Homo sapiens: one gene and its partner. The protein of the gene in region 1 interacts with the protein of each later gene in a biochemical or structural test. Each region holds a gene or a part of one and is shown on either strand. Other genes may lie near its edges.

The links.
Region 2: the proteins of MRPS22 (region 1) and ERCC6 form a complex in vitro, tested with the Homo sapiens proteins (one large-scale study listed by BioGRID).

Annotation. Positions count from the first base shown.
Region 1 is NC_000003.12:139,353,892-139,357,821, forward strand, and holds the end of MRPS22 (small ribosomal subunit protein mS22), read left to right. Parts: intron 1-1,790; coding exon 1,791-1,899; intron 1,900-3,027; coding exon 3,028-3,123; 3' UTR 3,124-3,238; downstream 3,239-3,930.
Region 2 is NC_000010.11:49,469,338-49,473,157, reverse strand, and holds part of ERCC6 (DNA excision repair protein ERCC-6), read left to right. Parts: intron 1-129; coding exon 130-249; intron 250-687; coding exon 688-782; intron 783-2,037; coding exon 2,038-2,183; intron 2,184-2,268; coding exon 2,269-2,976; intron 2,977-3,820. UniProt on the Homo sapiens protein: Involved in repair of DNA damage following UV irradiation, acting either in the absence of ERCC6 or synergistically with ERCC6. Involved in the regulation of gene expression.

The DNA of each region.
Region 1 (3,930 bases):
TGCTTTATTATTAAAACAGTATGTTCTTACAAAAAATTAGAGCAACGCAGAAATGTTTGAAAATTAAAGTTTATTAGGATATATTAATGTATGATATTATAGTATTACTCATCACATGTAAGCTTTACATCTGAAGCAATTCATGCTTACTGGGAGGGAAGTTTGAGTACTTACTTAGCTTTTCCTGCTATTCCTAGGTAAAGGCCCTCCTGTGGTCATTCTGAACAGAAGAGTGAGCTTACTGCAAACCACAGGCTGGACAGTAGAGGGTGCATATCCTCACTGAGTGGAGCTCAGAAAAGAATTAGGATTCTGCACACATTTATTCCAGACTCAGTTCCCACTGTTGGTTTTTATATTGAGATTATTTTAAAATCTTTTCGAAATATAATTTATTTGCTCTTTAAGTATGGGTGGGGTGTTAAGCTAAATTTAAATTGTTCTGTGAGGCACAGGCATTATACTTAAGCATGAACCTAATGAAGCCCTGAACATACCAACAGGTAGCAGTCCAGTTAAGCTCTTTATAAGGCCACATGCCTAAGCTCCAAAGGGAATCTTAATTTTTTATTGGGGAGACATTTCGTTACTACATTTAGTGGACTTTGTTAGATTATAACAAGCACAATAGATTTGTGATGAACATTTTTTATTTTTTTCCCCCTGAAAAGCTTTATGATACAACAGCTCTGTTTTCCTGAGAGATGGCCTTTAGGGTAGATGAGCCTCAGTATAAGCCCAGAGCATTTCTCTAAGGCTACCAAGGCTTGAGGAATTCTGTACTTACTCCCACTGTCACCCTGCTCTTCATCCCCCAGCTCAGGTAAGGGGAACGCAGGGAAGGCTGAAGAGTGCTAGCTGCGGAAGCACTGAATTAGGGTGTCCTCAGCCCTCCATTCCCAACTGGAAGCCAGTAGTTCACTTAGTGTATATAGCAGAGCCTCAAAAGCACAAGCATTTTGAGTGTCGTTTTTCTGTGCCCTCCAGCGATGAGATGGCAAATGGTGGGAAAGTGTCAGCTGTGTGAAAAGATAGTGATTGTTTGGTTTTGCTAGGACAGTTTTAATGTTGATAAAAATTGTTTATACATTTCTGAGAAGTACAGACCAGAAGAACTGAATTCTTGTTCTGTCTTCTTCATAGGTAGTTGTGTGATGCTGAAGTTAAGACAGATTGCTGATGTAGAACCCGATTTTCCTTTTTGTCTGATGTGTGTGTATAATTTCAAATTTGCTTCACTAGGATGCTATTTTACTAATGCGTTCCTGTGAATCCTTTCCTTGGAATCTTAGGGGGCCTCTTGTAGAGGCATTTGTCTGTTAGCAAATGTCACTTAGAGGCAAGTGACTTTGAGATCCCTGTGACCACCACCCTCCTGCTTATGTGGGATGAAGCTGTGTTTCTGTCCTCTGAGTTGGATTAGACTATTACATGCTGGTGAAGTAAGCTGGCCTGGAAATTGTCTACCATTAGGAATGCTGTTTCTGTGAGAAATGGTGCTCTTTTTCCAAAAAGAATATAGCCACATTTGGAATATATTCACTTTCATAAATTGGACACTTCCTGCAGTGACTCCTGCCCTAGCTGCCTCACGGAGTTGGTGTGAGGCCTAAATTAGTCAATTTTCCTGAAAATGCTTTTGAAACTGTAAAACTGAAGGTCCTTCCCCAATCCCTCCAGCCTGAGGAAAGTCTGAAATGTAATTTAGTTTGAAGTTGGCACACACTTTTATAGGACTGTGAATCAAATGAAGAAAACCCCTAGATAACATTAAACCCTTTCATTCTCAGAATCGATGATGCAACCAACTTGGTCCAGCTGTATCACGTGCTCCATCCAGATGGCCAGTCGGCTCAAGGGGCCAAGGATCAGGCTGCTGAGGGAATAAATTTAATCAAGGTAAAGTTTTTTTTTCATATTGGTTGTTTTGTGGTGGTAATTGAGCTGGGAAAAATTCAGAATTGGGTCATAATTAATGGTAACTAAACAGATTTGTGAATATGGGACATCTGTGGTCTTGAAAACATCAGTATGATTTGTCCCCATATTTCTTCAGCCTGGACAATAGAAACAGACAGGGGAGGGGGGTAAAGTGCAGTAAAGTAGGTTGAGTGATGTGGTGCTAGCAGCTGGAGTCCAGAGAAGTTCTGACAGTGCAGGGAGCAGCCCCTTTGTTCTTTGGAGCACTGGAAGGGCTGAGCTGCATCTGAGGTGTTCAAGCCACCAACAGGACAGGGTAGAGGACTAAGTAGCACATGTCCCCCAGAGCAGCTTCCTGTCTTTGTGTGGTCACATCACATCGGGGGAAATGGGCATGTGTCAAGAAGTGGAGAGTGTGATGCTTGTATATCATCAAGCCTTAGCTGTATTGTCATTTTGGAGCTGCATACCTCTCAAAACCATGGGCTTATGTACATTTATCTGTAAGTGCTGAGAGTTGAGATGATATTTTCAGGAAGGGAAGGGGAGGAGATTGTATAATTAATTTCATCTCTTCTAATGCTCAGAATATACATGGTTTTGTGGAACTGGCTTCTATCCTAGTAATACTGTTTGCATGCTGCAAAGCTAAGGAAACAATGACCTGTGATGACATCCTAGGAAGAGTAGAGAGAAACTACAGTACTGATTTTCTTTATGAACCTGATAAAGCGCAATGTTTTTGGAGAAAATATTCTTTAAAGTCAAAAGTTAGTTTGGTAACTCTTAGCCTCCAGATTTCTCTCTAACCTAATGGTTTTTGTTTTGATCTCGAAGGAAGTATTAATATTAATACAATGTCAGGGTCTTAATTGGATACTTCTGGTGTTTAGAATTAGTATTGCTTGAAATGTGTTGGGTATTGTTTTTCTGTCCATGTGTGTTTATTAATTATTGTATAATCGGGGGAAAAATTGTGAAATCTGAAAGCCCTTTTTAAGTAGGACTCTTTGCTACTACAGAAATGCTAATGATGTCTTAAAACTGAAAAACTTTATAAATAGCATATGTCCTATTGTTTTAAAATTTTCTTTTTAATTTAAACAGGTCTTTGCAAAAACAGAAGCACAGAAGGGAGCCTATATAGAACTAACACTGCAGACTTATCAAGAAGCACTCAGTCGCCATTCTGCAGCTTCCTAAAAATATTTTAAAAATACATTTATTTTACTAAATACTGACTACATTTCTCTGTTAATATTGAGCTAAATGTTAAAAAATGGCCAGATTAAAAGATATCAATTTGTAGTTCTCCCTACAAAGCAAAAATTATTACCCTACTCACTTTTCGTAGGCTACAAGGATATTTGAGTGCCTGGTTATGAATTTCTCAAATCATGTTAGATGAGCGTACGGTTAAAAAGTCTGGTGTGTTTTTGTGTTACCAAATAGGGCAAACGTTAACTTAGACAGACCCCCAGCTTAATGAGGTCAGAGGAACAGAGGTTTCACATCCTGACTCCAGAAATGGGTAGCTGCTAGACAAAATCGGGGCAAGACCTGTGGAATGATGCAATGAGGTCAAGAAAAAGGGTTTAGAGAATTACAGCCTGGATATTCAGCTCTAAGAAAAATGTGATTGACAACATTTGAAAATGCAGATTTAGTTATACAAAGAAAAGACAGTGGGGCTGATCCCTAGGCAAGGTGTAGTTTCGGCTCAGCCTTCTAAAACTAGAAGCCTATTTTCATTATTGAGAAAGGAAACAAGTACCTTCATTAATTCAAAAGGTTTTATGAGATATGGTCTAATAGTATGAAAAAAATCAAAGCCCATGTCTGTTTTAGTTAACAAGGAAAACACAGTGATTTAAATGCTGCACATAAACTCTTCTTAAGATGATGTGGGCATTGTGCTCCCAGTGGTCCACAGCATTTACATATAAAAATCTAAGAAGTTTCTCATAGTCCAAAGCACTGTGGTCAGGGTAGCAATCAATACCTATATAT
Region 2 (3,820 bases), on another chromosome or scaffold:
CTAGGACATTACCATTCCTTATATTGGGAACAGCCCAGTAATTCCATGTGTACAATATGTGGAGGCAGAGGCTGAGAACTGTAACTGGTCTTAAGTGTGTGTGCTCAGTGTTGTGTGTCTTACCTCTAGGACACATCCATATTTGTGTTTCTTCTGACCACGCGGGTGGGCGGCTTAGGTGTCAACCTGACGGGGGCAAACAGAGTTGTCATCTATGACCCAGACTGGAACCCAAGCACGGACACGCAGGTTTGTTTTTATTTTTTTTTTAAAAGAATGTATTAGTAGAAATATAGTTTCATGGTTAGCGCTTTTGACTGTCCTTTGATGTTCTGGTTGGCTTCAGCATACGTTTCACATTTTGATTGTCTCCTGTTCTTCAACGTGAAAGAAGACACCCTTCAGAGTCAAATGGACAGGAACCATCTTCAGCAGTTTATCCATAGCATTCATTCCTAGAGTTGGGGTAAAAAGAACATAGGCAAAGTTACAAACATTTTTTCAAGTAGAGATGTCTTTTCAACTGGCTGTTCATCTTCCTGAGTAGGCCTTAGGTGTACTTGACGTCATGAGTCAAAATTCTAACTCTGGGAGTGACAGGTAGTGACCAGCTAGCTTTGTTTCTTATAGTCAGTGCTTGTCATTGGGAAGGATTCTCGTTGAGAGGTCTCTCTCTCTCTGTTGCAGGCCCGGGAGCGAGCATGGAGAATAGGCCAGAAGAAGCAAGTGACTGTGTACAGGCTCCTGACTGCGGGCACCATTGAAGAAAAGATCTACCACCGGTCAGTGCACACAGTGGCCACTCTTGGCTGTGCGTTCCCAGAGTCTTGAGCAGGGAATTTTTCCAAAGTGTTGTTTTTAAAAGTCTTAACATCTTAGAATAATAGTTGCTATAACTTAAGGCTTTGGTTTTTGTTTTGTATTTTTTCTTTCCCTTTAAAATATGCTTAGATGTCTTACTGTGAGTTGTCAAAAAATGTCTTTGAACCTGATAATTTTTGTACCTTATTCTACCTCAAGAATCACATACATGTAAACTTCATATTGTTATTTGAAAGGAATATTTCTGCCTGCTATGGTGTGTTGCCTTCAGAAAAATTTTAAAAAATGACAAGGTTGAATGTTACCATATTGGTGTTTACATACCACATTATGCAGGTAGGATCAGTGTGGGTGTTCTGGCAGTCTTTGACTCTGATGCCCCTTACAAAGAAGTCGACAGGATGGCTGTTTCGTCCTCTGTCTTTCCATAATGACTAGGGGATTTTAGACAGTGGTAACTTCAACAGTAGAATCAAGACATTGCCAGCTTCTCCCACTCCCCCACCACAGACTTTATCCTTGAGCCATAGCCCAGCTTTTATAGGAAGCTCTGTGCCCTTTACCACATGCTGGGCCATTCCTGGAACATTACATCTTCCTCGAGGGAGTGTTGTGTGAGGGTGGAGGACGAGTTGGATCCTGTGAGAAGAGAGCTTCCTTTTATAGATTCATGCTTTAGCTGGGAGAATAAATGACAGGGAGGGACAGGGTGGCTGGTGGAGGTGCCTGTTCCAGAGTGGCAGTGGTGTGGGGCTTCAGCAGAGTGTGGACCTGCAGGTGGGAGCAGGGAGAGAGAGGTCAGAGTGGAGACATTGCAAAGCCCAGGTAAGAGAGTTTGCTGAGCCCTATGATAGGAAGGTTCTAGGCAGGGCAGGACCCTTGGTATTCAAGTCAAGGAGGCTAAGAGAGACTATGAGTCACATGATGGCATGTGAAAAGGTGTTTCTTGAAATGTGTTAGATCTTGGAGGTTGAAAAAGCTCATTCGGTGTAAATAATAAGGTATTATTTCTAATTTAAATTCTGCAAGACCTGGGAGATTAACTGATGTATTATATATTTCCTGAATTGTAATTTTCCAAGGCTGAAAGTTTGGGGGATTATTTAGCCATTCATGCAGCAGCTGTTATCATCTCTCTCTTATATTGCTTTATAACTTGAATTTTTAGGTAGAGCTACACATTGTTTTATACCAGCTTATCTTTTATTTTTTTAGACAAATCTTCAAGCAGTTTTTGACAAATAGAGTGCTAAAAGACCCAAAACAAAGGCGGTTTTTCAAATCCAATGATCTCTATGAGCTATTTACTCTGACTAGTCCTGATGCATCCCAGAGCACTGAAACAAGTGCAATTTTTGCAGGTATTACATAAAATCATTTAATTTAAAGTAATCAATTGCACAAGATGATACAATATAGTATTAGTGGTGTTTTTCCTCTTTACAGGAACTGGATCAGATGTTCAGACACCCAAATGCCATCTAAAAAGAAGGATTCAACCAGCCTTTGGAGCAGACCATGATGTTCCAAAACGCAAGAAGTTCCCTGCTTCTAACATATCTGTAAATGATGCCACATCATCTGAAGAGAAATCTGAGGCTAAAGGAGCTGAAGTAAATGCAGTAACTTCTAATCGAAGTGATCCTTTGAAAGATGACCCTCACATGAGTAGTAATGTAACTAGCAATGATAGGCTTGGAGAAGAGACAAATGCAGTATCTGGACCAGAAGAGTTGTCAGTGATTAGTGGAAATGGGGAATGTTCAAATTCTTCAGGAACAGGCAAAACTTCTATGCCATCTGGTGATGAAAGCATTGATGAAAAGTTAGGTCTTTCTTACAAAAGAGAAAGACCCAGCCAGGCTCAAACAGAAGCTTTTTGGGAGAATAAACAAATGGAAAATAATTTTTATAAGCACAAGTCAAAAACAAAACATCATAGTGTGGCAGAAGAAGAGACCCTGGAGAAACATCTGAGACCAAAGCAAAAGCCTAAGAACTCTAAGCATTGCAGAGACGCCAAGTTTGAAGGAACTCGAATTCCACACCTGGTGAAGAAAAGGCGTTACCAGAAGCAAGACAGTGAAAACAAGAGTGAGGCCAAGGAACAGAGCAATGACGATTATGTTTTGGAAAAGCTTTTCAAAAAATCAGGTAATCCATTTGATACGTTTGCCACAGGGATGCTAGGATTAGAAAATGAGTAGGCTGTTTCTAGCAGTAGCAGTCTTTAACTGATGGTGCATAGAGGGCTGTCAGCCATTAGTGTTTTTCTTCAAAAATTTAGATTTGAAATATATTGACATTTTAAAAATCGTATTTACACCTCTTTTCTGAAGACCTAGAATAATTTGAAACTTTGGAAAACAATAGTACTTATGGCCACTCATGGGAGGTGTGCAATTCTTAAATCGATGTGTACTACCTGAACATTAGTAGGCAGTTACTTTACATGCTATATGCTACATTAATCTGATTTTCCAACCACAGGAGATTAAAGTAACATCATAAGGGAGAGGGACAAGCGTGTGGCTAGAGACAGACATTCTAGAAGTATGAAAGCTGATAGCTTATGTCAAGGGAGAAAAGTTAGGAGATGTAGACTCAACAATTGCTCAAGACCATGGAGTATATAGATAGCCCTGCTTAGTGATCCCTTAGCAGTCACTGTGTTCACAATGTGATGGCCTTGAGTTACCAAAGATTGCTGCTTATGGTACTCAGTTTAAGAAGGCAGGTTTATGTGTAGCATTTCAGAAAGACTTTTATTTAGCATGGTTAATTTTTTTGTTAATTTCATATTTTGAAGTAATTTCAAACTTAAATCAGTTGGGTCTCAAAAAAAAATCAGTTGGAATAATACGAAGAACTCTCCTATATCCTTTATCTAAGTTATTAACATTTTTCAGCTTTTGCTTTATCATTCACACACACACCCATCTATGCATACATTTTTTTTTTGGTAGGAATGCCACAGAGGTGATACCGTATCTTACTC